4 linked regions of the Homo sapiens genome follow. The protein of the gene in region 4 interacts with the protein of the main gene of each other region in a pairwise test. Each region holds a gene or a part of one and is shown on either strand. Other genes may lie near its edges.

Evidence for each region.
Region 1: the proteins of UTP23 (region 4) and KRTAP10-5 interact in binary tests that used the Homo sapiens proteins (3 or more experiments, as listed by UniProt).
Region 2: the proteins of UTP23 (region 4) and KRT38 interact in binary tests that used the Homo sapiens proteins (3 or more experiments, as listed by UniProt).
Region 3: the proteins of UTP23 (region 4) and TRIM23 interact in binary tests that used the Homo sapiens proteins (3 or more experiments, as listed by UniProt).

Annotation. Positions count from the first base shown.
Region 1 is NC_000021.9:44,577,896-44,585,524, forward strand, and holds KRTAP10-5 (keratin-associated protein 10-5), read right to left. Parts: upstream 2,710-7,629; 5' UTR 2,684-2,709; coding exon 1,868-2,683; 3' UTR 1,560-1,867; downstream 1-1,559. UniProt on the Homo sapiens protein: In the hair cortex, hair keratin intermediate filaments are embedded in an interfilamentous matrix, consisting of hair keratin-associated proteins (KRTAP), which are essential for the formation of a rigid and resistant hair shaft through their extensive disulfide bond cross-linking with abundant cysteine residues of hair keratins.
Region 2 is NC_000017.11:41,437,782-41,446,477, reverse strand, and holds the start of KRT38 (keratin, type I cuticular Ha8), read left to right. Parts: upstream 1-5,494; 5' UTR 5,495-5,556; coding exon 5,557-6,048; intron 6,049-6,234; coding exon 6,235-6,317; intron 6,318-7,118; coding exon 7,119-7,275; intron 7,276-7,619; coding exon 7,620-7,781; intron 7,782-7,861; coding exon 7,862-7,987; intron 7,988-8,164; coding exon 8,165-8,385; intron 8,386-8,696.
Region 3 is NC_000005.10:65,620,357-65,628,907, reverse strand, and holds the start of TRIM23 (E3 ubiquitin-protein ligase TRIM23), read left to right. Parts: upstream 1-4,574; 5' UTR 4,575-4,633; coding exon 4,634-4,714; intron 4,715-8,551. Other genes in the region: TRAPPC13 (trafficking protein particle complex subunit 13), read right to left, coding at 3,802-3,847.
Region 4 is NC_000008.11:116,768,846-116,775,957, forward strand, and holds the end of UTP23 (rRNA-processing protein UTP23 homolog), read left to right. Parts: intron 1-1,346; coding exon 1,347-1,521; intron 1,522-2,610; coding exon 2,611-2,997; 3' UTR 2,998-5,839; downstream 5,840-7,112. UniProt on the Homo sapiens protein: Involved in rRNA-processing and ribosome biogenesis.

The sequences.
Region 1 (7,629 bases), on a different chromosome or scaffold from region 4:
TGTGGGAGGCACCTGGTGGGAGGTAATTGAATCATGGGAGTGGGTCTTTCCTGTGCTGTTCTCATGATAGTAAGTAAGTCTCACAAGATCTGATGGTTTTATACAGGGGAGTTTCCCTGCACAAGCTCTCTTCTCTTGTCTGCCACCAAGTGAATTGTGCCTTTCACCTTCCACCATGATTGTGAGGCCTCCTCAGCCATGTGGAACTGTGAGTCCATTAAACCTCTTTCTTTTGTAAATTGCCCAGTCTTGGGTATGTCTTTATTAGCACCATGAAAATGAACTAATACATCAGGAATGAATAAAAGGTTGCCACTACAGAATCTGTAGATATTTAAAGGAAACCAAACAAATAATGCAAACAACTCTATGTCAATACATTCAACAGCTTAGATGAAATAGGCAAATGACTGGAAATGCATCATTTATGAAAAGGGATACAAGAAGAAATAGAAAATCGGAATAGCCCTCTATCAATTGAAGAGACTGGACTCATAATTAAAACCCTTCCCACAGAGACAATGCCAATCCCGAATGGCTTTGCCATTGAATTCTACCAAGCATTTAGGGGAGAAATAATGCCAATCTAACCCAAACTTTTCCAGAAAACCGTGGGGTAGACACAGTGTCGGCGAGGGTGCTAGGGATTAGGGGACGGAGGCTGAGGCCTCACGGGTGGCAGGGATGCCCTTGGTGGGCTCTGGCCATGGACACAGACTCCTGGGATGAGAGGGGGACTCATGGAGGAACACCCACGCCTTGACCCTGAGATGGCCTTGCAGGGAGGGTAACTGAAAATTTACCCACTGGGGACAGTTGCCTACTTACTAAAACAGTTCCAGCCACCACCGCAGCCCCTGGAAGGCCATCCCCCCAGAAAATCCCCCAGGTCTCAGCAGGGCCTTGTCCACCTGTGCCCTCCAGTGTCGCCCATGTCAACCTCACCTAAGAGGGGCCTGACGCACGGTCCTGCAGGTGCGGACTCTGGGTCCTGAAAGCCCATGCGGAACCTGGTGCCCCCAGAGGAGGGCCTGGGGCAGTGCCAGTTTTGGGGAATCATGTGCATCCATCCACCCACTCCATGATGCTTTCGTCCTGATCGAGTCCCTTGTCTCCTGCGCAGGTGCAGCAGCCCCTCCCTCTCCCCCCGCATTGCTGCTAAGCGGGCAGAACTCTCGGGCGGGCGGCACACAGGGAGGGTGACCAGGCCTGGAGGCTGCGGTGCCCGGACCCCAGGCCAGCTTCCTGGAAGGTGACCCTGCAGGGTGGGCTCTCCCAGGTGGGACAGTGGGTGGGACAGTCCTGGGGCCTGGAGAGCCCCACAGCCCAGGGCACGGCAGCCAATGACCAGGCTCAGGAAGACCCAGGCATGGAGGCTGAGCCGGGACTGAGCCTTCCTGGGCGTGGCTGTGAGTTCCACCTGGTGACCCCCTGGAGGAGTTAGGCCACTGTCCCCCGTGACTTCTAGGTTAAGTCACTCATTCATAGAAACAGTCATGGCTAGAGACCAATCTGAGCTCAAAACCATGTATCCCCAGGAGCACTACAGAAAAAGAGAATCAGGCGACCAAGGGGAGTTTATTGGGGAGCAGGAGGAGGTGCTGACAGGTTCAAGTCGAGGCCAAGTGACATGGGGCAGAGAAGCTGGGAGGGAGGACAGGGGACCCAACAGGCAGGTGGGCCCCTGCTGGGAGGCAGGAGCTGGGGAGCTTCGAGGATGGAGATTCCTGGGAGTATGGAGGGGGGGGTCACCTCAGCACATGGGGGCCCCGTCCCAAGCGGGGGCAACCTCCTAACCCGAGTCAGGACCAGTTGGCCCTGGGGGATGTGCACATCAGCAACTGGACTCCTGGCCTGAGCAGAGGCCTCAGCAGGCCAGGGGGGAGCACGCGGGGCGGCAGAGGAGGGACACGCAGGAGGCCGGGCGGCAGCAGCTGGCCTGGTAGGAGGAGGCAGGGGCACAGCAGGAGGAGATGGGCAGGCAGCAGGCGGGCCTGCATATGGGGCGGCAGAGGAGGGACACGGAGGAGGAGGGTCTGCAGCAGGAGGTGGTGCAGCAAGCCGGCTGACAGCTAGACTGCTGGCAGCATGAAGTGGAAGCCCCAGAGCAGACGGGCACACAGCAGATGGGTTTGCAGCAGACAGGCTTGCAACAGACAGGCACGTAGCAGGACTGCTGGCAGGGGGAGGAGGTGCAGCAAGTCGGCTGGCAGCTAGAATGCTGGCAGCATGAAGAGGAATCCTCAGAACAGGTGGGCACACAGCACACGGGCTTGCAGCAGACAGGCACACAGCAGGACTGCTGGCAGGAGGAAGAGGCACAGCAAGTTGGCTGGCAGCTAGACTGCTGGCAGCATGAAGAGGAATCCTTAGAGCAGGTGGGCAGGCAGCACACAGGCTTGCAGCAGACGGGCACGCAGCAGGCCTGCTGGCAGGGGGAGGAGGCGCAGCAAGCCGGCTGGCAGCACGAGGGCGTGCAGGAGCTGGTGCAGCCTGATTGGCAGGGGCTGGGCTCACAGGCCGCCTGGCAGCAGGGGCTGGACACACAGCTCACTGGGGTGCAGACCAGGGTCAGGCAGGGGGCGGTGCCGCAGGGGGGCTCACAGCAGCTCTCTGGGCAGTCGTCCACTCGCCAGGAGTCAGAGCAAGCGCTGGAGCAGACGGACATGGTGCACGCGGCCATGCTGGGGTGGGGAAGACGTGAGCTGGGAGCTGGGGGAGGTGTGAGTGAGTGAGTGTGTGAGTGAGTGAAGGAGGGAGTGAGTGAGTGAGGTGCTCAGGGCTGTGGGGCTTTTAAATCCCTCCCTGGCGTGTGTTGTCCCGACAGGAGGCTCCACAAGCTTCTCTTCCTTGTTGGTGTTTAGAGCTGGTGGCTGGAGATGCGTCATTCATGCTGGTTTATCTGTTTGTTTTTCCCTCATTAAACTTGTGTGTATGTTGCAGGGCCGTGTTTCTTCATCGGTTCTTATTTTAGCCCCAGAAATGTGGTGGAAAATATTTCAAGCAAACTTTTGTTGAGTAGAGGTTTTAGAGATGAAGACTTCTCTAAAGGGAGGAATTCTAGTTTCACCTATCCTGTGTTTGGACTGATTGGATATATTTTATTACTTTTAGCATATTAAAATATAAATAGGTAGAAAAATATGCATTTCTTATAAAATGCAGCTGGCACAGAGGGTACGATGAAGCTAAGTGGCCCTCTCTTCAACCCCTTGTGCCTCGTAAGGGGAATGCTCAGAGATTTGGTATCTGGTGGATCTGTGCTTTATCCTTGTCTCTTCAGCTCTTCCATGCCACCCTCAGAGCCCTCTCTCTGTTTTATTTGAAGCTGCGCTCTGGGTTTTCTCCATTTTTATTTCCTCATGGTGACAGATCAAGTACTTTTTCACATATGGTGATTTTAGGACATACATTTTAAGATTTCTTTCTTGCCTAAAAATGTACTCAACTTTACCCTCACACTTATATGATAGTTTAGCTGGGTATATAATTCTGGTTTTAAGTCAGAATTATTATTATAAATAATAACAAAAAATCTGTTTTCTCAAAATGATGAACCTGTGTCACCATTTTTCTGTAGTGTCCAGCGTTGCTGATGAGAGACTGAGGTTGGTCATTTGTCATTTTTTATAGTTTGTCTCTCTCTCTCCGTTTAACTCTCTGGGAACATTTGGTTTTCTTTTTATTCTTCTTTTGTTTCTATGCGTGTGCATTATTTTACTTTCTGTGGTTAGAATTCATTGAGCCTTTCAATGTGGAGACTCAGGAAGTGTTTTGCGCTCTTAAAAATAACTCATCTCTCAAGGTCTTTCCTTTTGTGACTTTAATTTTGTCTCACGATGAATGAAATACATTTTTGGCTCACTGTAATGATGTTATGTTGAGCATTTAAACGTTTTTCCCCTCGTTTCACTGGACATCAGTTAAGCTCTGCTCATTGGTGGCAGTTCATTTGATTTTCTGAGTAAAAGACTATTTTATTCCAGGGCATTGGGGTCCTGATCCAGTTTACATTCTAATTTGTTTCCATCTGTTTCTCTTTTCTACAAATATATAAAGGATTTTAAAGAGCCTCCCTTTTTGTTAGACAATTTTGATTTTATTTTTTATAACTCTTTGAATATCCTTTCAGTGATTATTAGTAGAGGTTGTGCGAGAACTGTGTGCTTAACCCACTTTCTGGGACTGAAGGACTCGATGCTCCTTTCAGGAAATGACAGGAAAGCCAGGAAGGCTAGGATGACGTCATATCAGCGGGTGTGCTACAGACATGCACGGCGCAGGTGCGGTCTCCACATCAGCCACCGCGTGAGGGGTGACTCTGCAGCCCATTTTGACAGTTGCAGAAATGATGAGAGAAGATAAGTAACCTTGAAAGAGGACAGCTGGCCGGCAGTGAACCTGACAACCGCGAGCTCTCACTCCTTTCCCTCACGGCCATACATGGCTCCGTTCTGTCACACAGCTCCCAGAAGAGTGCGTGCTTCCTGAGTGGCAGGCAGGGAGGCAGGTGGTCCTGAGCCAGCGGGATGTGGTAAGGCTGACATGGCTTCTGGGACAAGCCCTGGGGCCTGTATGATAATTTGCTTTAGTTTTCCCATCGCTATCTCTGGCAGCCTCCTTAATCGAATGGGTGTGGTGATTCCTTGTCTCTTTATTCCTATTTGTGATCCACGCCCTCTGTCGCTCCCTTCTCCTGGTGTCTGGACCACCCATCACTGTCCAAAGTGTCTTTCCACAGTCATTGCTGTGCCCACAACAGCTCCAGGGTCTCAGTGTGCCTGATCTAAGTCCACGCCCTGCGCTCAGTGGAGACGTGTCTTTTTGGATCATGGAAATTTTCACTGGGGGCCACCATGGCAGTTTCCACGGACAATTGAATGATCACACCAATTTCTTTCTTTCTCTCTTTCTTTCTCTTTCTTTCTTTTCTTCCTTCTTTCTTTCTTTTCTTTTTTGACACACAGTCTCACTCTGTCACCCAGGCTGGAGTGCAGTGGTGCTGCAGGCCCCACCTCCCGGGTTCAAGCGATTCTCCTCCCTCAGCCTCCCGAGTAGCTGGGATTACAGGTGTGCACCACCACATCCAGCTATTTTTCTTTCTTTCTTTTTTTTTTTGTATTTTTAGTAGAGATGGGGTTTGGACATTTTGGCCAGGCTGGTCTCGAACTTATGGCCTCAAGTGATCCATCCGTTTCAGTCTCCCAAAAGTGCAGGCATTACAGATGTGAGCCACTGCACCCGGCCAGATCACATCATTTCTTAAATCAAGCAGACACTCTGGGGATCTGAGTGAGCTGAGCTGCAGGGATTAAACAGCCCTGGCTGGGGGAGGGAGGTGCTGGGAGGGGATGTGAGTCTGGAGGGCAGGGTGGCCCACGGCCGTGTCTTCTGCAAGTGACACACGTTTGGATTCTTCTTTTCCAAAATGTAGTCTTTTGTTTTATTTGACTCCCTTTCATCGTGGCTGGCTGCCCAGCACAACTCTGGAGACGCGATGACAGCAGCCCTCTGGTCTTGTTTCCAAAGTTAACAGAAGCACCTCCTGCAGCTCCGCACTAAGCCGGTGTTGGCTGGTTTGTCGCAAAGCCTTGGTCTCGTGCATGCAGTGTTTTTTCACTCTAGTTTACCAAGAATTTTGCCTCAGGCTTTTAAAGAAGGAGTGAGTTTGTTCATGTATGTGTGTGTGTGAATGTGTGTGTATTAATCTACTGAGTGTTCCAGTGGCTTTTCTACTTCTATTTTATGAGTATAGTTAATGATACCCTTTGTAACTTGAGTGATCTAAGATATACATTACTTGATAATGGCTCATTATCCCTTTTTCCCCAGCTTTATTGAGATGTAATTGACAAATAAGAATTATATAAATTCAGGATGTCTTGATACATGTACACATTGTGTGATGATTACCACGGTCAAGCTAATTAATATGTCCATCACCCATGCAGTTACCTTTATTTTGTGATGAGACATTTAAGGTGGACTCTCTTAGCAAATTTCAGTGTTACTGCGTCACATTCTGTGTTACAGTCAACTGTCCCCGTGCTGCACATGAGGTTTCCAGAACTGACTCATCCTGCACAGCTGAAGCTGTATCCTGTCATCAACATCAAAGTGGATAAAGCACACAGTTCTTGCACACCTGTATTAATAATCGCTGAAAGGATATTTAAAGAGTTATAAAAAATGAAAACTCCCTGCACCCCCGCCCCTGTGAACCCCCACTCTACTCTCTGCTTTGCCGAGCTTGGCTTTTTTAGATTCCACATATAAGCGAGGTCTGCAGTATTTGTCTTTCTGTGGCCTGGGTCACTTCACCTAGCATAGTGTGTGCAGGTTCATCCATGTTGCCACTAATGACAGGATCTCCCTCCTTTCTATGGCTGAATCGTATTCCATCGTGTGTATACACCACATTTTCTTTATCCACTCATCTGCTGATGGGCACTTATGTTGCTTCCATATCTTGGCTGTTGTGACTAGTGCTGCAGTTAGCATGGCAGTGCAGGTATCTCTTTGAGATCTGGCTTTAATTTGTCTTGTATATACAAGATTGCTCATCACATGGTAGTTCTATTTTTAATTTGCTGAGGAGCTTTGACACTGTCTTCCATAATGGCTGCATGTAACAGCTTAGTTTTTCTTTAACATAGGCACATAGAATCTCTTGCTTTATCTTTTTAAATGGGATTGATTTACAGTCCTCTCTCCCTCTCTCTCTCTCTCACACACAATTATTCCTGGTTTTGGCATCAGGGTCTCACCAGTCTTATATTAGAGGAATCCAGAAGATCTCTGTCTTCTTCTGAGCTCTGGAATATTTCAAGTATCACAGGAAGGTCTTATATTGAAGGCTGATGATATACACCTTTAAAACATCTGAGTCTGCCTTCTGAAGAATATCTTTCAATACCATTTCCATATTTTCCTGGACATCATTGTATTAAAAGTTTCATTTTGTTATTCAGTGTTGGTAATTTATATTTTTTAGAACACAGTCCATTCATTTATATTTTCAAATTTTAGGATAAACATACCCATGCTACTTTCTTTTACATAAAAACAAAAATCTCTCAATCTGTGGGCATGTTTCTTTTTCAATCTTTAATGTCTGCTTATTTTTATTAGACTGTATTTTTATTTTCTTTAGATTTTCCTTGATGAGCATCTGCGGATTTTTGTGGACATTTGAAAAGAGGGGGTCGTGCTCCTTCTTGTTAGAGATTGTTGAGTAAAAGTTTCAGAAAGCGTCATGGGTGGTAAACTTTCTGGATCCCTGTTGTTTAAGAACAGCCCTCCTGCTGACACCTGCCACAGCAGAGTCTAGGTGCAGAATTTCTTCCCTCCACCTTAGTAGAGGTTGGGCCACCAGTGTGTCTCAGATTTGCATAACTTTAATCTTCTTGTGAAGCTTTTCCTCTTTCCAGAACCTGGCACTATTCTCTCCTTGTACTTCATTCATTTCACCAGACCCCTCCCTAGTCACTGTCATCAGCTGTGTTCATCCCCTCGGTCCCATCTTCTTTTAGTTCAAGGAACTTTTATTCCCATATGGGTTTGATGATTTTCTTTCATTCTTGGCTTCTCTCCCCACTGTGATCCCAGAATCACAGACCCTGAGTCTCC
Region 2 (8,696 bases), on a different chromosome or scaffold from region 4:
TTCTTCTGTCTTAGCCTCCTGAGTAACTGGTATTATAGGCATGCACCACCATGCTTGGCTAATTTTTTTGTATTTTTAGTAGAGATAGGGCTTTGCCATGTTGGCCAGGCTGGTCTCGAACTGCTGACCTCAGTTGATCCACCCGCCTTAGACTCTCAAAATGCTGGGATTATGGGCATGAGCTGCCAAGCCTGGCCTTTTTTTTTTTTTTTTTTTTTTTTTGTAAATAACAGAATAGACAGTGCACCCTGAGAGAGGATCAGGGTGTGCTCCTTGTAAGGATGAGATGGCCCCCTGGGGGATTCTGGTGTATAGTCAAAATTAGAAGTTGTTCTCAACTGGTTTCCAAAGGGATGTGAGGTGAGGGGAAGCATGTTTGTCCCAGACGTTTCTAATCACTGTGTTTGGGACTATTCCCTTCTCTTAGAGCGATGGTTATCAAGTTTGAGCATTCCTTAGAATCACCTGGATGGCTTGTTAAAACACAGATTATGGCCGGGCATGGTGGCTCACACCTGTAATTCCAGCACTTGGGGAAGTTGAAGCGGGCAGACCACTTGAGCTCAGGCATTCGCGACCAGCCTGGGCAACATGGCAAAACCCTGTCTTTACAAAAAATACAAAAATTAGCTGGGTGTGGTGGCATGTGCCTGTAATCCCCTCTACTGGGGAGGCTGAGGTGGGAAGATTGCTTAAGCCTGGGAGGTCGAGGCTACAGTGAGCTGAGATTGTGCCACTGCACTCCAGCCCGGGTGATAGAGTGAGACCCTGTTTCAAAAAAACAAAAACAAAACACACACACAAACAAACAAGGAAAAACACAGATTGCTGCCCCCTCCCCTGCACCCAGTGTATCTGCATTCAGTAGGTCTGGAGTGGGCATCTGAGAATGTGGATTTCTAACAAGTTCCTGCGAGATGCTGATGCTACTGGCTAAGAAACCAAACTCTGAGAACCACTGCCCTACAGGCTGACACGACCAGCTTAGGAAAATGTCCAGAGAGTAATTTTTCTCAACACAACATAAAAACCAACATAAATCTATACAGTTTTCTTTATCAAATGTCATCTCCTCTGTGCTGGCTTATCCCTGCCTAATGCTTGCTAAGTGCCTCACTTGGGCTTGTACCTTTCCTTTGTCAGTGTCACTATCTGAGAAAGACTTGAAGGTGACTTGAGAGAAGCATCCTGCATCAGCAGAGAAGGGTTGTTCCCAGTGATGTGCAATCAAACTAGCTGGTTCTGCCCTTTCCAGAGGCTGCCTGAGTTCGCAGCTGGGACCGTGGGGCCCTGGGGGGAACCACAGCATCTCAGTGACTGGTGAGAAGATGAAGCAGTTGTGGGTGGCACCATGGCCATAATGCCTTCCTCTTCTCTAGGGGCAGGTCTCTTGCCTGTGTCATCAAATGTGATCTACCTTTGGTTTCTCTGTAGGATTTATAAAAAAAATTACTATGTAAGAAATGTACTGTCAGGATTTTGGTTTTAGAAAGTGGGATCAAGTGGTACGCTGGAGCTAACTCTTATAACTCACAAGAGCCGATTTTTCACATCTCTTTCCAACTCCACATTCAGTGACATCATATTGTTTGCTTGAAGTTGGCTATTGTGGGAGTATTTACACCACAGAAATTGGCTTACACTACAAACTGGAGGGGTTTTCCCCCCAGAGAGCTAATTTGCCGGCATATCTCTGGTTGTGTATTTATCCACATTGCTTAAGAATCTATGATTTTACTTCATTGTTTCAGCATACAAATATCTTTGCTTGGTGCTACTGTGTTTCTCATTACCTGCTTACATAATTAAACACACATGGATGCAGAACCTACTCTGTAGCCGGGCTCTGTGCCAGAGTCTGGGGATATGGAGATGAAAGAGGAAAAAGCAATGAGACAAACTCCCTGATGTCCTGGAGATCCCAAGTCCATGGTGGGGAGCTACCACCTCTGATACAGCCACAGTTTCCCAGGGTGAGAAGAGTGTGTCAGCAGAGGGAGAGCAGCCTACCTGGGAAGCCAGAGAAGGCTTTGCAGAGAGCATGAGTGAGCCCACACAGCTCAATCTATCTGTGACAGAGAACGGCCACTGAGCTGTTTCAGACTCAGCATGTTTCATAATCATGGGTTTGTAATGAGCAACAGAAAGCAGTTCAATATTTTCCACAATGAGGATCTTTGACCTGTGCCAAAGATCTGTTTTTATTCTGGTTGAAACAGAATTCTATATTTTCTTCCCTTCTTAGGGTCTTGCTTCTCAAAGATTTTCCAACTCTTTCTAATTCATCTTCTGGAGTCTCTTCCCTCACTATTGCTTGCCAGGGCAGGGTGAGCCTCCTGAGCTACTCTCCAAGTGGGTCGATTGCAGTGAAGCCTGGAGCAGCAAATGATGCCATCAGAGGCAGGTGTGAGGCTCACAGGTCCCAACGCACGGGCCCCGGTTTCTGTGCCTATGTGCAGAGGTGGAAGCTCGTGACTGTCATCCACAGGAGAGGATAGGACTTGTTTCCCACACTCATGCCAACACTGTGTGCTATTATCCAACTTAGCAAAACCTGATAAGAAAACAATATCTCTTTAGTTTGTATTTCTTAATCACAAATGAGCATACATTCATATATAGATAAAATCATATTTAATTTGAACAGAAGTGTACCTTTTCCATTCATCAAAGCCTCAGGAGTTGGATACCTAGAATAATACATTTATATGCTCAGCCTCTTCTCTCAAGAGTCTTCATGGTTTCTTGATCTAGGATTGTTTGGGACACCATTTTCTAACACCCTGGAGATGTGGCAGCACTAACTCTACATATAGTACTTGTCATAAATCTTTGCATTCACTGCAATGTGTGATGGGTGACGTTCCCACACAGGGCACAACTCCCTAGATGCCTCCCTGCATCTTCCAGCAGTAGGAGCCATGACACAGAAAAGATAAACTTTGAGTTAGGCACAATCTCCAGGTGCTAGCCTACAGCTCCATACCTTTCTCTCCCATTGGTTGAGATATGCCCCTATGTATCAAAATTAGTGAAAATGGCATTCCAAGACCACAGCTCCTCACCTCCATTTGCAGTAGACTTCATGCCTCTAGAGATCGGCATGTCTAAAGTCAGAATCCACACAGAGAATGTTGTGCACACAGGTGAATGAAGGAGGGCAGCAGGCTCCCATCTCTCACACTCTGTATTCATCACTTCTTGTTACTGAACCTGGCCTCATATTCGGTCACCAGGGGCCACAGGGACTCTTTTTAAAGGGTTGGGAAGGAAGAGAGTCTTAGGATCCCCACCCGCTCCTTCACCTCCTTTGAGAAAATACAAATCAGGGGAACAAAGCGATTTTACAAAGAGCCATGCAACATCAGTATCATTATGCAAAACAGTACAAGGTAGAAGCCCAAGCCAGGACCCAAGCCAGTTGGCAGAGAGGGGTGTCATCTGGACACACAAGGCTTCAGCAGTGATGAGTCATGTATTGTGAATGGACGAAATCGTGGCTTTTAGTCCATGGAATGAATCTGGGCAGAGGATAAAGCCAAAAGATGGGTGCTACTTAGCAAATCAAAGGAAATGACTTTAAAAGCCTGGCTCTCTGATTTATAGAGAAGCTTGTTGCTATGTGATGAGGCGGAGGAGAGTAACAAAAGGGTGTTTGAAGATGTAACATATGCAGATTGCACCCAGTGGCCTCTGGAGGATGGGACAGCCTGCCCTGGTGATGTCTCCCAATGATGTTGTCTGTAAAGGGTTATGGATTGGTGAGCTCTGAATAACCCTTAGGTCAGCGCTCACTACTACTTACTTTCCTGAGAAGCCCAATCTGGACTGAATTCTCAGATTCTGTATTTCTTCTTGATAGAACTCCAATAGCCTGTGTTTCACATATGCACGTCTGATCCCTATAGAGGTGTATGTTCAGCTTTTGTTCAATGCTCAGGGGACTGGCAAAAACTCATTTTCCCAAAATTCTAGTTATAATCACTTTGGATTGTTCCACATTAGGTTTTTCTTAGTCTCAGGGGTCTATGTATCTTCTGTCACAAATTTTGGGAGAAAAGTTTTGGGATCTCAGCAGCCATGTGTCTTGGATCCCTAGTACCAAGAACTATCTGAATGTGGAATGTGTAATATAACCATTTTAGGGACAGGACTTTCCCCTGGCATCTTCTGATTTAGCCCTTGGAGAAACTCTGTTTTATTGTATGAATACCTCCACATCTGTATTTTCTGAGATACAAAGGGAAAAATACACAATGTCAGATTTTTGTTTTACATCTTAATTTCAACTTCTTGCCCGGTTTCTAGGAATTTGAATCCTTCTTAGTTCTAGCAATGACACAGTAGTTATCCTTGGGGTGGAGGATTTGGAGGTGGTCAAGGTGAAGAAACAGTTTCTGGAGTTGAAAGAAGCTGATGTTGAGAATAGGCTTTATACTTTATAGTGAGGTTGATCTTAGAAAACTGTCCTCAATGGCTTGTTTATTTATTTTGTAAAATTAAGAGTACCCACCTCCCAGGTTGGAAGTAAAGATTAAAAGGTATCATTGCTCAATCCCCTAGCTCATAGGGTGAAGGCTCATGACTGACTTTAGAATAAAGGAAGCAAGGTATGAAGAGAGCCCACAGAGGCTCTGATCACTCAATGTCCTTTGACTTTCATGACCAAGTTCTTATTTGAGGTTCAGTAAGATTATTGCTCATTTCTCTTTGTTTATTTCTGGCTTCTTGAGCTTGCCCTTCTTGGTCGAGATAAGCCATGGTTTTTGGAGTCATCCTCATTTTCATGAGCTTCTCAGATACCTTGTTTGAAACATCACGTCTACCCAAGTTACAGTTGTTCCCCAATGGCAGGAACTATTTTGTGCTTAACCAACTATATATCAAGCATCAGCAAGGTGCGTAGCATATGGGACGTAGCCAGGGGATGTGTTTTGAGTGACTGGATTCATCTAAGTCTTGTTGCTCCTCAAAGTGAGTCTGAAAGGCAACCAACTAAAGAAAGAAGAAATGTAGGACTTCTTGATAACCCAAGGCCATAACATCCACCAATTCCAAGACTCAGTTTCTTCCCTGGATAGGGAAGGCTGGTTGAGTCTTAACCCAAGTGAGAACCATTGTCATCACCGGGGTTAGTCCTCCTGCTACACCACTGACCAACAGGAAAGTTTGTGTCTCCAGAGTGGACACATCCATAAAGAGGCCAAACCCAGTCAAGGTCTAAGCATCTGATGGCTATAACTTTGCTTCTTTGAAAGATAATAAAAAGCTTCTGACCTCCCATCAACAGCCAACCTGATTTCAAAGAGCCAAGAGGCCTCAGATTCGTCAACATTCCTTTAACGAGCTGAGAAACTTTTCATGGTAAACTCAGCAGCTGAGTAACAGGATGATGGCACCACAACAGGTAGATAATCAAGGCAGGAGGTCAAAGCATTGGAGCCAACACCCGCCCAGGATGGGGTATAAAAGGGCTGGGAGGAGAGGAGGCTTCAGTCTCAGTGGTTCAGCTTTCCCAGCTGATCTGAAGCTCCTGTGCAGCCTCAGCCCAACACCATGACCTCTTCCTACAGCAGCTCCTCATGCCCTCTGGGTTGCACCATGGCTCCTGGAGCAAGAAATGTCTCTGTCTCTCCCATCGACATTGGGTGCCAGCCTGGGGCAGAGGCCAACATTGCCCCCATGTGCCTTTTGGCCAACGTGGCACATGCCAACCGAGTCCGTGTGGGGTCCACTCCCCTGGGCCGCCCCAGCCTCTGTCTGCCGCCTACCTGCCACACTGCTTGTCCCTTGCCAGGGACCTGCCACATTCCTGGCAACATTGGAATCTGTGGGGCCTATGGTGAAAACACCCTGAATGGCCATGAGAAGGAGACCATGCAGTTCCTGAATGACCGCCTGGCCAACTACCTGGAGAAGGTGCGCCAGCTGGAGCAGGAGAATGCGGAGCTGGAGGCCACACTCCTCGAGAGGAGCAAGTGCCACGAGTCCACCGTGTGCCCCGACTACCAGTCTTACTTCCACACCATCGAGGAGCTCCAACAGAAGGTGAGGTGTGGGATCGCTTGGGTGTGCTGGGTCTGAGATGGCAGAGGCAAGACAGGAGGAATCCATGTAAAGCTCAGAGAACTTTGGGTTCTTGGTTTCTCTTGGACATGATCATAGACACCACACGTGGAGAAGGAGCCTAGGGCATGATGCTTTGTGTGTGAACTGTCTTCCTGTTCTCCTCAGATCCTGTGCAGCAAGGCCGAGAATGCCAGGCTGATTGTACAAATTGACAATGCCAAGCTGGCTGCCGATGACTTTAGGATCAAGTAAGTCAGGCGGAGGAGGGCCAGGGTGACTCCTTCCCCACCCTCCATCCCAATGCCCAAATACTTGTTGAGTGAGGGAATCATTGTCATTTCTTCCTTGCTAGATTCTCTACAGTAAAATTTTCATTACAATCGAAGCTGATGGAAGATGGAAGGGAAAACTCCTCATTAATCCAAGCATATATGTTTGTCTTCCTTCATTTATTTCCCTAAAATGGAGGATAAGGCAGCCTGAGTTCATTAACCAGGAGCAAAATGAGGTGATTTGAAGGATGAACTGAGCAAGACAGCCATTGGGTTTCATATATAAGTCAGAGGAGTCACTTACAGATGAGTCTTTGTCCAGATTTAATTAGGGAGCCCTAAGGTACCAGGTATAAGGTACCTAGGCAAAAATGAGAGAGGGGAAGACAGCTGAAAGCAAGGGATAAGGAGCCGCAGATCACGATCAGGCACCTGGTTATTGCTTATCTTTGGTAACTGACAGCCCCTGCAATGGCATGAGCGTTGGACTGGGTCCCAAGATGCATGATCTTACGCAAGTCAGTTGATCTTCCTGAACTGCAGTTGCCACAGAATACAATGGCAAAAATGTATATTGTGCAATGTAGTGTTGTGATTTCTCCATTAGACCATGAGCTCTTTGAGAAGAGGGGCTGGGTCTAATTCACCTTTGAGGACAGAGGGCTAAACAGAGTGAATAAATGAGGATCCAAGGTGGTGTGGGAGGTAGGAAGCCAGGGCAGCCGAGAGGGGCTCTTGGGGGCATTCTTTTTGACCCTGTACCTCCTGTGATGAAAGGCTGGAGAGTGAGCGCTCCCTGCGCCAGCTGGTGGAGGCAGACAAGTGTGGGACACAGAAGCTCCTGGATGATGCGACCCTGGCCAAGGCCGACCTGGAGGCCCAGCAGGAGTCCCTGAAGGAGGAGCAGCTCTCCCTCAAGAGCAACCACGAGCAGGTGTGGCCCTGGGCGCTCAAACTCCTGGGGAGGGCACTGGGCAGACAGGGGAGCTCCCCAGCCCCGGGCTCTCAGAGCATTGCCTGGCCTCAGCTGGCATCAGGATGCAGGGCTGAGGTGGGTCTGAGGGTCCAGAGGGCCTCTGTGGAAAGTGCAGACTTGCCTTGGGCATGAGGAAGGTGTGCAGGTGGGCTCTCCCGAATGCCCTCTGGGCAAGACTTTCCCATTTGCTTGTGTGTGGGACTCCCCTCCTACTGCTTGCCAGGGGCGGGGTCCTGGTGCTGTCTGCTCCATCAAAGGCCCTTTCCTCATGCAGGCTGTCTGTCCCTTCCTCCCTTCTGCAGGAAGTAAAGATTCTGAGGAGTCAGCTGGGGGAGAAGCTCCGGATTGAGCTGGACATTGAGCCCACCATTGACCTGAACAGGGTGCTGGGGGAGATGCGGGCTCAGTATGAGGCCATGTTGGAGACCAACCGCCAGGATGTGGAACAGTGGTTCCAAGCCCAGGTGAGTGGGGGGGGTATAGAACCAGGGGGTACCTGGCCTCCATCTGGGCAGGGAGGTGACCGTGTCTCTCTGTGCTCCAGTCTGAAGGCATCAGCCTGCAGGACATGTCCTGCTCCGAGGAGCTGCAGTGCTGCCAGTCGGAGATCCTGGAGCTGAGATGCACGGTGAATGCCCTGGAGGTGGAGCGCCAAGCCCAGCACACCTTGGTACGTGTCCTTCACTCTCACTGCACTGCAAATGCCCCGTGCCATGGCCTAGTAGCATTTTATTTTGGAGGTCTCACTACCCAAGTTTCTCCCACCTGTTATCACCATCAAAATTTGAGGCATGTAGCAGTTTCCCTTGGGGCCTTGTATATTTTATCCCCTTATTTCCCACTACAGAAGGACTGTCTGCAGAACTCCCTGTGTGAAGCCGAGGACCGCTTCGGCACGGAGCTGGCCCAGATGCAGAGCCTCATCAGCAACGTGGAGGAGCAGCTGTCTGAGATCCGGGCCGACCTGGAGCGGCAAAACCAGGAGTACCAGGTGCTGCTGGACGTGAAGACCCGGCTGGAGAATGAGATTGCCACGTACCGGAACCTTCTGGAAAGCGAGGACTGCAAGTACGTGTGATCTGGGCAATTCCTGGCCAAATTATTTACTCAATTCTGATGAGGTCCTCAGGGCAGCAGAAGGGCTGTCTCTATGTAGAATGAGGCTCTCTGTGCACTCCTTTTCAGTGAGTCGTTGCCCTGTCCTGCACACTCCATGTGGTTGACAGAATGAAGGGAATGACCATGCACTTAGAGGATATTTACCAGGTCTCCACCGGGGCTGCTTGGGGTAGCCATGGACTGATGAGAGTAGACACAGGGTCGCTGCTCAAACAGGAGATATGTCCATAGATCCAGCAGATTTTTGGACTTGGTTTTCT
Region 3 (8,551 bases), on a different chromosome or scaffold from region 4:
AGCCAGAGGTTGCAGTGAGCCAAGATCATGCCACTCAGCCTGGGCGATAGAGCAAGACTTCATCTCATTAAAAAAAAAAAAAATTCTAATCTGTCTGGAAGAAAATTAATCATTTTATACTTAAAATTATGTAGATTTGCCAGGTGCGGTGGCTCATGCCTGTAATCCCAGAACTTTATGGGGGCCAAGGCGGGCAGATCACGAGGTCAGGAGCTTGAGACCAGCCTGGCCAACATGGTGAAACTCCGGCTCTACTAAAGATACAAAAAATAGCCGGCTGTGGTGGCGTGTGCCTGTAATCCCAGCTACTCAGGAGGCTGAGGGAGGAGAATCGCTTGAACCCGGGAGGTTGAGGTTTGCAGTGAACTGAGATCGCGCCATCGTACTCCCATTGCACTCCAGCCTGGGTGACAGGGCAAGACTCCGTCTCAAAAAAAAAAAAAAAATTATATGGATTCCACCAAACAAATATATAGATAGAATATTTGATGATTTCACGTCATTCTCTGTAGTAAAAACTAAAACCATTAATATGGTTTAACTTTGCTAATATGGTTTAACCAGGCTAAGAACCAGTTTTGTGACACTGTCTTCTCCTCATAATCCAGGCAATTAAACAGTATGGAGACCCCAATACCATGGCTTTTGAATTCCAGTTTGGAAGAGAACAAGAAGTCTAGACTCCTATTTTTTTCTCTTAGAGCACAGAAGTCCTCAAGTTGCCCCAAATTAAGTCACTGATAATAAATTCCAGCATATGGTGCATAGGCTCAAGAATGGAGCCTTCCAATATCTGCAAGTTAGGCTTGCTAATCAGGCCCAAAGCTGTAAGAGCCATAAAACAGACTTTTTCACATCCTAACAACAGCAGAAAAAAATAAGTTGAATCCCTTCTCCCCAAAAATCATTAGAGAATTACTTGATGAGGGTTCTCCCACTGCTAGGATAACCATGAGTATGGATTCTTGTCATCATTTCACAATAGAATCACTGTCTGATTCTGAAGAGTTAGAAGAAATAATTTCATTATTTTTACCTACTGATACTGCCCACTAACAGATCTGACAACTCTCAAATTCATAAATAATTGTGATCTTTAACATCCATATTTTAAATATGGATCTAAATGTTATCATATATACTTTCAAGAACTAATGATGCACTAATGTTTTTCTTCCCTGTTCCTTATACTTTCACATTGTAAAATATGGCACTGAGAAATTCTCTTGTTGTCTAAAGTCAATCAGTGTTATACTCAAGGGATGACTTTTTTTTTTTTTTTGAGACAGAGTCTTTGTTGCCCAGGTTAGAGTGCAGTGGCACAATCTCGGCTTACAGCAACCTTCGCCTCCCAGGGTCAAGTGATTCTTGTGCCTCAGCCTCCTGAGTAGCTGGGACCACTGGTGCACACCATCACGCCTGGCTAATTTTTGTATTTTCAGTAGAGACGGGGTTTCATAATGTTGGCTAGGCTGGTCTCGAACTCCTGATCTCAAGTGATCAGCCACCTCACCCAACCAAGAATAACAAGATATTATCTTTAACATTTTACATATTAAAAGATAAAGTGAACTTAAATGACCACTTAAATTAATACATTTGGCATTCAGCATCAGCACATTGAAATGTGTGAAAATTGTTGATTAACTAGAACAATGGGTTAACTATAAGATGGTACTAAAGAGGTTTAATAAAGTTGAAACTATCAGTCAATTTTGAAGCACTTGTCCGTTTAGGCTGCTTATTGTTCTTTTTTTTTTTTTTTTTTTTTTTTTTGAGACAGGGTCTCACTCTGTCACCCAGGCTGGAGTGCAGTGGCGCAATCTCAGCTCACTGCAGCCTCTGCCTCCCAGGTTCAAGCGGTTCTCCTGCCTCAGTCTCCCGAGTAGCTGGGATTACACCACCACACCTGGCTAATTTTTGTATTTTTGGTATAGACGGGTTTTCGCCATGTTGGCCAGGCTGGTGTCAACTCCTGATCTCAAGTGATCTGCCAGCCTCGGCCTCCCAAAGTGCTATTACAGGCGTGAGCCACCACGCCTGGCTTAGGCTGCTTAAATATTCTTTCTTAGGTATCCTTGGTTTTGGAAAAAAAAGAATAACAGAAAACTAAAAATTCCCAGTGGCAGTCTCTGTATCACTGGAATTTAACTTTTTGTTTGTTTGTTTTTTGAGATGGAGTCTCGCTCTGTTGCCTAGGATGGCGTGCAGTGGCGTGATCTCGGATCACTGCAAGCTCCGCCTCCCGGGTTCACGCCATTCTCCTGCCTCAGCCTCCTGAGTAACTGGGACTACAGGCGCCCGCCACCACGCCTGGCTAACTTTTTGTATTTTTATAGAGACGGGGTTTCACTATGTTAGCCAGGATGGTCTTGATCTCTTGACCTTGTGATCACCCGCCTTGGCCTCCCAAACTGCTGGGATTACAGGGGTGAGCCACCACGCGCGGCTGCAATTTAACTGTTTTTAATAGCTTCTAATTTGTATAAATCACACGTAGCAGTTAATAGAACTGTTCCAAATTCCCATCGGAGTAGCTGGTAGAGGAATTATCTCTGAGAATGCTGCTTCATTCTTTAGGAGGCAACACGGACTCTTGGAAAGAGAGGCAGGCCTTGCGTTGAAACACTGCCTCAATCACTAGCTATGTGATCTTGGAAAAGTTACTTAAACTCTGAGAATTAATATTTACTCCACATACTTGAAGTGAGATTGTGAGATAAAGAACACGACAATTAGTTGCTTTTCTTCTTTTCCCTCTTCTCCACGAGTAACAATCCATTTTAATCTCCATTTTAGTCTAGATCATTTGCTCAGGTTAAGCTTACAGGTCCCATCACTGTATCACTAAACATTACAAAGTTCCACAGTAAGAGACAATCTCGCTAACACAGGCATCATTATATGAGACTGATGAGCTTCTAGAAAGTCTGATGACTACATCATAATGGGAAGGATAAGGCGTTCCTCAAAATGGATGCCATAAGTAAAGTAAGCGCAATTCAATTGAACCCGAATGTTTATTGAGCATTTCCTCAGCTCATTCAAGAAGTCATTGTTAACCATATATTAAGGCATCCAAGAAACAAAAAGCGCATTTGTTGTAGTAAAAAACAAATAAAATAAAGCTGAAAAGATTTCAAATAAAAGGTTTCCAGAAAATAGGCATTAAAAAAATTGTCCTAAAAAAAAAAGTGCTGCTGTTTTTTCCTAAATAATGATCTAATTAAATCACCAAACTTACTCAAAATGGCTGTGTACAAAAAATGAGAGTTGACATTAGATCTCGGACATATTTCCCACATACACAGTGATTTGAAGTAAACTGCAGTTTGTTTTGAATAAATCTAAGTTATATGTTGTATTACTATGTATTGCTAAATTCTCTGCACTACTGTCATGCAATACTAATTTTACAGGGGAAGCTGAAGCCTGATTAACTTCGTCAGTGCCACAGGAAGAAACAAGAGACAGAAGGAAAAAGCACTTTGGATGCCCGCTGTAATTCACAGAGATCTCCACGGTAGGAGCGGGACGTCAGCTTCTGCGGCTAAAATCTCGTGACTGAAGCAGCACAGATCAGAAAGAACGATTTACCAGGTATCTATTTCGTTCTAGAAAGGGGCCCATAAACCTAAAAAGCATCCAGGAGAAATCGCTTCCTCCCGCTTGGCGGCAAAGGACAGAGCAGGAGGGCGAGCACTGAGTGTTTAAGAAGGATGAGGCCTACATGGCAAAGGCTTCGATAAGTAGGGAATGCAAGGAAACAGAAAAGGGGGAATCAGGTTCGCAAAAGTTTACCTTTTAGCGCCAGCAGGTGCTCCTGTTTAGGGGGATTCACTTCCATTTTGACCGGCACTTTTGACCCACAGCCTACGGGGGCTGGACAGGTTCAACTTGCCCCGGAAGGAAACGGAAAACCTCGCGTTTGGCAAAACCAAAAGTCAAACGCACTCTCAACCTCTCTCTGGTGGTGGTACCTTAAATTCTCCTACTGTGTCCTTTACAAACTGGCTTCTTTTCAACAAGTCCATTTCTTCTATCTTAGAAACGTAGGCATAAAATACTTTGTTTTCCATCTGCAATCACACATCGCGACTGCAGGAAAAGAAACCACCCCTAGGTAACAATACGCGGCCTCCCAAAGGCCAACGTTGCCGGAGTTTTTTTTTTAAAAAAAAAAAAAAAAAAAAAAAAGAGAGAGAGAGAGAGTGGCATGCTGGGATTTGTAGTTTATACAAAAACCGCGTTGCATGCAGGGAGATGCCCGTACCCCCTCACCGCCCTCAGTTCACGCCCTGGCTGGTTTGGATTCGAGAGGAAAAATCATTAAAGGATCTGGAGTTTTCACCCCAAAACTTTAATCGTTTTGTCCCTTCTTTTTTTTTCTTGTCTTTCCTCCAGCAGCTGCAGACTACATAATGAAAAATAACAAAAGTGCCCATGCGCGAGGCTGTGCAACTAACCACCCGACGATTGCGGGGAGGAGGAGTAAGAGTCGGCTAAGCGGCGCCCAGTGTCCTACTGCGCCTGTGCGCCGGTGGCGTGCGCAGAGGCCTCTGGGTAGGTGGCTCAACCCCGCCTCTCAGTTGAGGACTCTGAAGGCTGTTTCTGTGGCGCTTCCCCTGCGAGGATGGCTACCCTGGTTGTAAACAAGCTCGGAGCGGGAGTAGACAGTGGCCGGCAGGGCAGCCGGGGGACAGCTGTAGTGAAGGTGAGGGACCTTGCGTGCTCTATTCTCCACCATCGGCCTCCCTTCGGTTCATCCTGGAGACCTGGCGGCATCGCCGCGGCCCAGGCTTCGATAGGTGGGATGCGCGGCCTCTGGGCCCCTTTTGGCATTACAAGTCTCGTCCTGTCCTCTGCATCCTTTCTCTCCTATGGCCTGAAATTGCCTGGTCTTCTGCTCATGACATGTCATCATCGGGACATTTGTGAAAAGGAGCTTGCGGGCCAGTGGCAGTGACCTAGACCGGTCTTTTCTCCAGGTCCTCTGCTTTTAGTTAAACTCAACAGACATTAATTAGCTTAGTATTATAAATTGAGTCATCATCATCGTAACTACGTACTAAGTTAGGTGTTTTAGCTCGTTAATATCTACTTATGAAGTAGATGTGAATTCCCATTTTACAGGGAGGAAACCCAGGTTTAGGTAAACAGTGTGTGGCAGAGCCCCGGGTTGACCGGCTTTAAAGTCTGTACTTTTCGCTCTTGTACTGCGTCTGTAATCAGACATCTGTTATTGGGTGAGCTGCCCCCTCCCCTGTTAGTAGTACAGTCTATTAACTCTTTGCACAAGTCTGCAGCATCGTCATAGCTGGGCATTAACGATAGAGTTTATGAATTTTCTTATGCTTGAAGTTTGAGATTCTACCATGTATACATGCTCCAGAATCAATTTGCTAAAAAATCATTTGAAATATGTGGCACTCATTTTTCCCTTCCACTGTTGTGCACGGAAAGATATGGAGGGGAGAACTGATCCCATTGGTTTATAGAGTAACCTTCAGGAGCATCTCTAATCTAAGAGATTGATAATTCTCATTCCTGGCTACATATTAGGATCACTGAGGAGTTTTAGTACACTACTGATGCACTCCTCCTCCAGTTCTGATGAGGTTGACATCAGTATATTTTAGGAATTACCAGAAGTTATTTTAATGTGCAACCAGGGTTATGAATTACTGATCAAGGTAATATATGAAGTTTTTTTCACATCTTGAAAAGTAGACACCTATGATTATTCAGGTAATGTTGGTTTTATATGACAGCAAATGAGACATTTCTTCCCACAATTTAGTATCAGTGAATATTGGTGGTTGTTGATTCAGATGACCTTTAGGTACTAATGAAGTTATTCTACAGGTACACGGCATATCTGATATGCAAAGGAGCCCTCATTATTAGGCATGTTGTGTGACTGAGATTTTATTTATTGAATTGTGCTTTTGCTAAGTAGAGAATACTTGAAGAGCAGTTTGTGAATTAACTTGAAGTTTAAGTTTTATTTCATAATTGGAATGGGTATCATTGCAGTATCTATTTTTTTGTTACCCTGTTTGCCTTACAGTCTCAAAAGTGTACCAAAGCCTGATGTAACTCCAGTTTCTTACAGCACAGAATTTGATACATTGGAGGCTCACCTTGTTCATTTTCATCTTAACATGTAAAATATTCCTGAACTGTGCAATGAAATAGTCCTTTCTGACAAAATCTTCATGCCATAATTTGTAGTAGGTATAGTAGCATAAACTAAAAAAATCTCACTGTCATTTCTATAGATGAAAGCAAGAAGTATTTATTGGAAGGTAAAAGTTGAAGTATATAATGCTAATACTGTGTAAAATGGCCTTTTGCTTGTGAACAAGTTGATAATGACATGGCTTTTATCATTAGAGAAAACAGTAACATAAAAATCTGATATTGTGGCTAGGCGCGGTGGCACACGCCTGTAAAGCACAAAGTGCCTGGGAAGCACTTTGGGAGGCCAAAGTGGGCGGATCACTTGAGGTCAGGAGTTTGAGACTAGCCTGGCCAACATGGCGAAACCCCGTCTCTACTAATAATACAAAACGTAGCCAGGCATTGTGGTGTGGGCCTGTTAATCCCAGTTACTCAGGAGGCTGAGGTAGGAGAATCACTTGAACCCAGGAGGCGGAGGTTGCAGTGAGCTGAGTTTGTGCCACTGCATTCCAGCCTGGGTGACAGAGTGAGACTCCATCTGAAAAATAAAAGATAAAAAATCTGATATTGTGAAATAACTGACATTTAAAAATGTATCACAGAAAGTTTCACACCTTTAATCTCAGCACTTTGGGAGGCTGAGGTGGGAGGATTGCTTGAGCCCCAGAGTTTGAGACCAGCCTGGGCAACATGGTGAGATCCTATCTCTACAAATAATAATAAAAAAAAATTAGCCAGGCGTAGTGGCACATGCCTGTGGTACCAGCTACTTGGGAGTCTGAGGCAGGAGGATTGTCTGAGCTTGGGAGGTCAAGGCTGCAGTGAACCATGCTCAGGCCACTACTCTCCAGCCTGGCTGACAGAGTGAGACCCTTTCTCAAAAAAAAAATAATAATAATAATAAATAACAACATAAAATAAAATATCTGATTGATTACAGTTTGATTTACAAGTAATAAGTTTGAAGCTTTTTTGGCATTTTTTGAAGTGTAAAATTAAGAGCTTTTTCCTATCTAGGGTTTTTTGCTGTTAACCACAATTCCTATTTATAGATACTGAGGAAATATTTTCTTGCTGTATTATTTACCGAGTTGATGCAAAATAGTCTAGTAACTTTATTTTTGGACCTGTGTTTGGTTTGCTAATCAATGGAATTTTATTAGTGCTTTTTGAAAAATACATTAACAGCATAAGGAAGTTCTTTTAAATCTTTGTATAGTGATGGGATCAGAGATACAGGATTGAAATGAACTAAACAATTTTAATATGGTTCTTTGGAGTTTATTGTCATAAATTTACTTTATTAGAGTATCATAATACAGCATTTATAAAATGTTGCATTTATTTTATATCAAATTCTATTGTGAATTTTTGAGACAGAGCCTCACTCTGTCGCCCAGGCTGGAGGGCAGTGGCACAATCTTGGCTCACTGCAAGCTCCGCCTCTTAGGTTCATACCATTCTCCTGCCTCAGCCTCCCGAGTAGCTGGGACTACAGGTGCCCGCCACCGCGCCTGGCTAATTTTTTGTATTTTTGGTAGAGATGGGATTTCACCACGTTAGCCAGGATGGTCTCAATCTCCTGACCTCGTGATCTGCCCGCCTTGGCCTCCCAAAGTGCTGAGATTACAGGCGTGAGCCACCGCACCCAGCCTATGAATATTTTTTCTATATTTAATTGAATTTTTTTTTTTTGAGGCAGGTTCTCACTCTGTCACCCAGGTGGGAGTGCAATGGCACGATCATGGCTCATAGCAACCTCGACCTCCTGGGCTCAAATGATCCTCCCACCTCAGTTTTTGATTTTTTTTTGTAGAGACAGGGTCTCGCTGTGTTGCCCAGGCTGGTCTTGAACTCCTGGCCTCAAGCAGTCCTCTTGCCTTGGTGTCCCAAAGTGCTGTGATTACAGGTGTGAGCCACAGTGCCTGGCCTAAAGAATTTGATAACGTGAAACTTTCCCCTTTTTAAAAAATGTAGGATAAATTGAAGTATGTGTATATATGAATAATAGACAGAATTATACGTGGATAGCTGTTCCCCAGTTGTTTGCCTTTTTCATGGGGAACCAGTGTTCCAATGTTACTGGTGTCCTATGTATCCTTCCAGGAAGACAATACGCTTATACAACAATACAAAAAAAATTTGCTCTTTCCCCACCTTTATGCAAAAATGAATATATTCTATTATTTTTCTTTTTGTTTTAATCATATGAAATCATTCTGTGTATATATGAAAAACTTCATCTTTCTCACTATCCTATATAGTTTTATAGTATTATGAATGTGCCACAATTTATTTTCCAAGCTGATATTGATGTATATTTACTTTCTTTCCAATTTTTTGCTAATGCAAATGATGCTTTAAGGAG
Region 4 (7,112 bases):
AGCAGAGACAATGTTTCACCACGTTGACCAGGCTCGTCTTGAACTCCTGACCGCAGGTGATCCACCCACCTCGGCCCCCAAAGCATGGGGATTACAGGCATGAGCCACCATGCCAGGCAGTTTTTAAAAATTTTGGCAGTTTCCCCTCCCTTTAAATTTTGCAATTTATGTTTTTAAGAAATCAGGTCATTCGTTTTTCAGTGGAATATATTTCTTGGCCACTAGTAGTTAGGTCTCTACAGAGTTTACTGATATTCAGGTTTGAAGATGTGTGGAGTTAATTGATGAAGTAGAACAGCAGAATGTTATCAGGCCTGGGTTTTATTTTAGAAAAGATAACTGCAGTGATGTGAAGGGTAAATTGGAGAAACAAGAGAGCAAAGGCATGAATCTGTTTTGCGGTTGTTTAATCAAGAAGTAAGGGGAGCCTAAACCTGGGAGAGGAAAGGCAGGAACCCAAGGGTTCTCCAAAGAAACGCTACGTTACTGAGATAGATAGGTTGAGCAGCTGATGGCATAGGAGTATGGGTGAAGAAGGGCAGGAAGGTCAAATGTGATTTCTGATTTCTATCTAGGGTGTCTGGGAAAATAGTAATTTCAAAGAGATAGCAAGTCTTGGAGGATAAATTTGGATACAGGAAAGTGGTTTGATCTTAGACATGGTGAATTTGAAGAGTTGATAGCAGGACATCCACAGGCTGGCAGTACTCAAAATAGAGGTCAAGTCTAATGACTAAAGCAAGCAAAATCTTCTTGAAACAGAAAGATGATAAAGGAGATGAAGCAAGAAAGAATCTGGCAAATGCTGGCTAGGGTTGAGGAACTCTTATGACTAAATGTTTTTTTAAAAACAACTTGATGATGTGAGAAGTTTTACTGTTCTGAATTGAAAATGTTTTGAAAGTATACCAATTTGTACTTGAAGCAGAAGCTTATTACGCTATGGTTGGGACAAGGGAGCTGTTGTCAAACTGCAAGTCTCGGTACCACTTGCTAGTTACTTGAACTTTGGCATGTTACTTGAAATCTCAGAATGGGGTGCTCTAAAATAAGGATAATTTCAAGGTAAGCGACCTAACTTCATAGGGTTACTTTGAGATTAATCAAGAATTTATGTAAAGAGCAATTTGCATACTACATGGAACATAATAAGTGCTCAGTTAATTTTAACTGTTGTTCTTCCTACTTGGTAAATGCATTTTTCAAGTGATCTTTTAAAGTAAATGGTTACCAGATGACAAATTTAGATTGTAACAGCATAGTTTTATTTTAAGAAAAAATCGACTATTGTTTTTTACACCTTATGTAAACAAGTGAAATGTATCTGCTATAATTTTTCTTTTCAGATGTGTGTTAAAAGAGCTAGAAACATTGGGAAAGGACTTATATGGGGCAAAACTGATTGCACAAAAATGCCAAGTTCGAAATTGTCCTCATTTCAAGAATGCAGTGAGTGGATCAGAATGTCTGCTTTCCATGGTTGAAGAGGGAAATCCTCATCATTATTTTGTGGCAACACAGGTGATACTACTTTTAAAACCACAGGCAATTTTCACCATTTCTATTTATACTTCATATGGAGCTATTTATAATCAGAAAAAAGTTAGAATGATTAGACTTTTAAAAATACAGGCTTCTAAGTTAATTTGCAGTCAGTAAAAGCAATTGTCATTTGAGAATTTGAGGAAAACTTTAAGCATGTTGATATTCTTTTTAGTAGTGGAAGGTTGGGTTTTGTTTTTTTTAATGATTCCTTTGTTTTGCTTTTTTTGTTTGTTTCTTGAGACTTGAGGGTCTCACTATATTGCCTAGGCTGGTCTCGAACCCCTAGGCTAAAGTGATCCTTCCACCTCAGCTCCTGAGTACCTGGGATTACAGGTGTTTGCCATCATGCTGGACACTGGCAGAAGTTTCTTTTTTTAAAACAAGAAATTGTTGACATGAGATGTGATGATTTGTTGTAGGGTTCTTGAAGGGAAGATAAGTAGAGCAAAGTGCCTGTATTCTGTTAATTTTTTTCATGTTCCTGTATTTCATACTGTTTCTCAAAGTCATGGTTCATACTGCTTAAGACTGTACCAACAGTATGAAATATTTCAGGCTTTTGAAGAAAAATATTCCCATCTTCTTGAAGGCAGGAGAAGAGAGACTTTTGGGGGTGATATTAAGTTCACATACATACAGATTTGATTATCAGAATTATAAAATTACACAGAGGTAGAGCTGAATTTAGAATCTGAGTAGCTAATTACTACCCAGTTTCTTTTCCTTTAACCTCTTTAAGCATTCTTGACCCTTTCCAAAGAATATCTTAGAGTGGAAACAGGAGAAACCCACCTAACACATTTACCTTTGCATTAGTTTGTAATTTGTGGCTCTAGAGTATCGATAAATCCGGTTCACACAGCTGCTACTAACACTGTGCTCAGTTTTTATGTTTTTCTTCCTTTATCATGAAATATACCCCCATTACTCAAATGAATAAGTGAGGCTTACTCATTTGAAAAATAAAATCTGTGATCTCTTTTATTTTTAATACAGTTCTTGAAAACCTATTTAAGGTACCTTAATTGACATTTGAACTAAATAATTCTGTTTTCTTTTAAATAGGATCAGAATTTGTCTGTGAAAGTAAAAAAGAAGCCTGGAGTTCCTCTCATGTTTATTATTCAGAACACTATGGTTTTGGACAAACCTTCTCCCAAAACAATTGCCTTTGTAAAAGCAGTGGAGTCAGGTCAGCTTGTCTCAGTGCATGAGAAAGAAAGTATCAAACATCTCAAAGAGGAACAGGGTTTAGTGAAAAACACTGAACAGAGTAGAAGAAAAAAGCGCAAGAAAATAAGTGGTCCCAATCCTCTTAGTTGTTTGAAGAAAAAGAAAAAGGCACCGGACACACAATCATCTGCTTCTGAAAAGAAAAGAAAAAGAAAAAGAATTCGGAACAGATCTAACCCAAAAGTACTTTCTGAGAAGCAGAATGCAGAAGGAGAATGAATCCTTTGGATACTTTCAAGGACATTCAAATGTGAAAATGAATTTTTTACAACTAGAAGTATTTATAATAAAAGACCAAACTTATTTTTGTAAATGAACCCATATGCTTTAGCTAAAATTAATTATAAAATAAAAACAGTGACCAGTCTAGCCAGCATGGCAAAACCCCATCTCTACTAAAATACAAAAATTAGCTGGGCATGATGGTGCACAGTTGTAATTCCAGCTACTCAGGAGGCTGAGGCATGAGAATCGCTTGAACCTGGGAGGCAGAGATTGCAGTGAGCCCAGTTCGTGTCACTTCACTCCAGCCTGGGCAACAGAGTGAGAACATGTCTCAAAAAAAAAATAAAAACAGTGAATGGGTGTAGGTGTGATGGAATTCACTTTACTTACTAAATGGTTTCGGGAGGTTGTTTCTCCAGGTAAAATTGTCGCCTCTCTGGTCCCATTCCCACCTTCAAACATTATATGCAAACAGTTTTAAAAAATCTTACAGTTCTAAAAGGCTTGTGACAAAAAAAGAGGCAGTCCCTCTTTCACATTGACAGAAGAAACTTCCTCTTTCAATTCTAGTAGTTGAAGAATTTATATTTCCAAATTGTATGATTATACCGCTACTTTTTGATACATCAATTATTTATTGACTTCCTACTAGAAAGAGTGAAATTTTGCCCATTTATACTGCACCATTTTTCCAGTATATGAATATTTTACTCTTTGTACATCAGAAACTCAGTATTTTCATTATTATGACTAGAGTTTTTTTGTTTGTTTGTTTGAGTTCTACTTGTCCAATAAGGATGATGATTTTCTTTTAGATGTAAATGTTAACTTCAATAGCAAGAATTCAAAAATAATATTCTCTTTGAGATTGACTGTGAATGTTATTGAAAAGTGTCTAAATTAGTCTGAGGATCAATGAGGGTCAATTCAGTTAGGAATTGAATAATGAAACGTGTCTCTCTGAATTCCCCCGGCAATTGTTTTAGTCATTTATCAGGCCAAAATTAAAATGTTTTTGTACTACAAGATGGAAGTATAAAATTATTGGACAAGTGAAATCGTATCAGTAGTTCCTGACTGACAGCTTCTGGAGCCACACTAGAGCAGTGATTCTCAGTCTAACATTAGGTTATCATGATGACGTATGAGTAAATTCTTAATGGTTAAATGTGAGACAGTTCACATTTATTCCCATAGAAATGTCATTCTCATTTGAATTCAGAGATACTTCTTTGCTGGAAGTTGGAATTATAGCTTTACACCAAGGAGTGACACGTAGACTAATCTGGCAAGCCAAGGTAGTGTTTGGATTGCAATGTCATGATTCTATTTTAAATTCTTGATGGTAGAAACATTTTTAATAAGGAAGGTAAAAATACTGGAAAAAAGTGAATAGTGTAGGTTTTGTGAGGAAAGTTAACATTTGTCAATGACAAGCATTAAGGCCACCTAATAAAGTGTAGACAAAGTGATAAATGAAATATACACTGATGATACTCATTTCAATATGCTAAAATACATTAAATTTAGGTATTACTCTTAATCTATTTCTACTTAGTCAGTGCTATCTGATTACCTGTTAATAGCATCTGAACTGGAGAGCTGGAAAAATCCACTTTTTTATGAAGCAGTAATTATAGAAGTACTAAAAATTACAATGTATTAGTAAGTTTAATATTTTGACAGGGCATGGTGGCTCACACCTGTAATCCCAGCACTTTGGGAGGCCGAGGCTGGCAGATCACAAAATTAAGAGATCAAGACCATCCTGGCCAACATGGTGAAACCCTGTCTGTACTAAAAATACAAAAATTAGCTGGGTGTGGTGGTGTGCGCCTGTAGTCCCAGCTACTCGGGAGGCTGAGGCAGGAGAATCGCTTGAACCCAGGAGGCGGAGGTTGCAGTGAGCCAAGATCATGCCACTGCACTCCAGCCTGGTGAGAGAGTGAAACCCCGTCTCAAAAATAAATAAATAAATAAGTTTACTATTTTAAAACTGGTTAATCATTTATGTATTTTGCCAGTAAAATTACTTTAAAAGATATTTTAACAAAAGTCTCATATCCTTGTACTTCAGTTTTTTTGTGTGTGAATACTATCCCTATACCACTACCCCTAAAACCTCAGAATTATTTGCTTTATTTTTTCATACAACTTGGGGAAGGGAACCATGGGAGTATGCACATGGGATCATAATCCATTCTGTGGTTTGGAAAAAGAAAATGTTAACCTCTGCTTTAGAGGGTAGCTACTAGCTTTGTTGGGGATAAAAGTGTAATACATGCACTTTTGAACTCTGAAAGTTTGCCAATCTGAAAAGGGGTGTTTCTGAAGACCACTATCTTTTACGAACACTTAAAAATAAGTGTTTGCAGTTGTGTATGGGCACGATACTGTATTCTTTACATTTTTATGGCCCTACAGCTACTTCTTATCCCTGCAAGTATATAAATTAAAACCAAGTCACTTTAGAACAGCTTTGAAACTAGAGTTTCAAAGGTAAAAGGATCTCATGTTTCTGAATCTGCGTAAAGCAAGATGGCTGTGATTTGACAGGTTTAATTGCTAGTTTTTTATAGGTGGATAGAAATGAATAGTTTGGAGTCTTTAAAATGTTTTAAAAAATGTTTGCTTACTATCTATATATATGACATTATTCCCAATTAGTTTTATATCTCCAAGATATATATATGTATATAGGTATATACACATATGTATATATACATAGTCTATATATTCTATATAAGAATATATTCCAATAAGAATATATTCCATACGGGAATATATTAGTCATTGATGTATTTTGCCGGTAAAATTAAAAGATATTTTAACAAAAGTCTCATCTCCTTGTACTTCAGTTTTTGTTTTTTTTTGTTTTTGTTTTTGTTTTGTGAATACTATCCCCATACCTATATTCCATACAGGAATATAGTCTATATATTCCATATAAGGATATATTCTATATATTCCATTTAATATATTCTATAAAAATATATATTCCATATAAGAATATAGAATGTATAATACACGAATTTGTACTGAGTAGAATGTGTCAATACATATTTGTTGAATGAATGAAAATGAAGGCCAAGTGTGGTGGCTTATGTCTGTAATCCCAACATTTTGGTAGGCCAAGGTAGTAGGATCACTTGAGCACAGGAGTTTGAGACCAGCCTTGGCAACATAGGGAGATCTCATCTCTACAAATAATCGAAAAATTGCCAGGTGTGGTGGCATGTGCCTGTGGTCCTAACTACATGGGAGGGTGAGGTGGGAGGATCACTTGAGCCTGGGAGGTTGACATTGTAGTGAGTCTTGATCATGTCACTGCACTACAGCCTGGGCGACAGAGCAAGACCCTGTCTCAACAAACCAACAAAAAAGTAAATGAAATAACGTCAGGTCTACCAGAAGGGAGAGTCATGACTCATCCAATTTCCAGACTAAAATAGTTCAAGGGCCAGAACTCCTTAATTTAAGGGGACGCTGGGTTCTCTTGAGAAAGAATCCAGTATATAAAAATTACAGTATATACTTGTAGCAGTGCTTCAAGTCCCCTTTCCCAAAGGGACCTGTGGCCACTTTCTAGAGGGACTGTGAATTGGGGAATAGAAATACTCAGACCTTTGGGAATATTTCTGGTTCTGAATTGATGCTAGTTGCTAGGGTCTCAAAATGCTACTGGACCACCATTTAGAGTAGGAGTTTATGGTGGTGAAGTGACAGAAAAATTGAGTTTTAGGTCAAATTTGAGTCCAGTGAGCTCAGTAGGTACTTGAGCCCATCCTGTTTATTCCCAGTTCAGAAAGTACAGTCGTTAAAGACATACTTGGTAACTGGTCATGTCCCCATATTGGCTCTCATTTATGGGCTAAGGGTCGTTAGGATAGGAAGGGTCAAGTAGAAGCTGTTGGAATTTCTCTTTTCTGCTGTATAATAAACCAAAAGATAGGACATCACTGGGGGAATTGCAGAGATTATTAACACTACTATCATCAAATGATAGAATGAGGTAGAAGTGTTTATTCCTATTACATCTCCATTTAATGCATCTATTGGGCCTCTGCAGAAGGTAGATGATCTTAAAACCAATGACTGTGGATTATTTT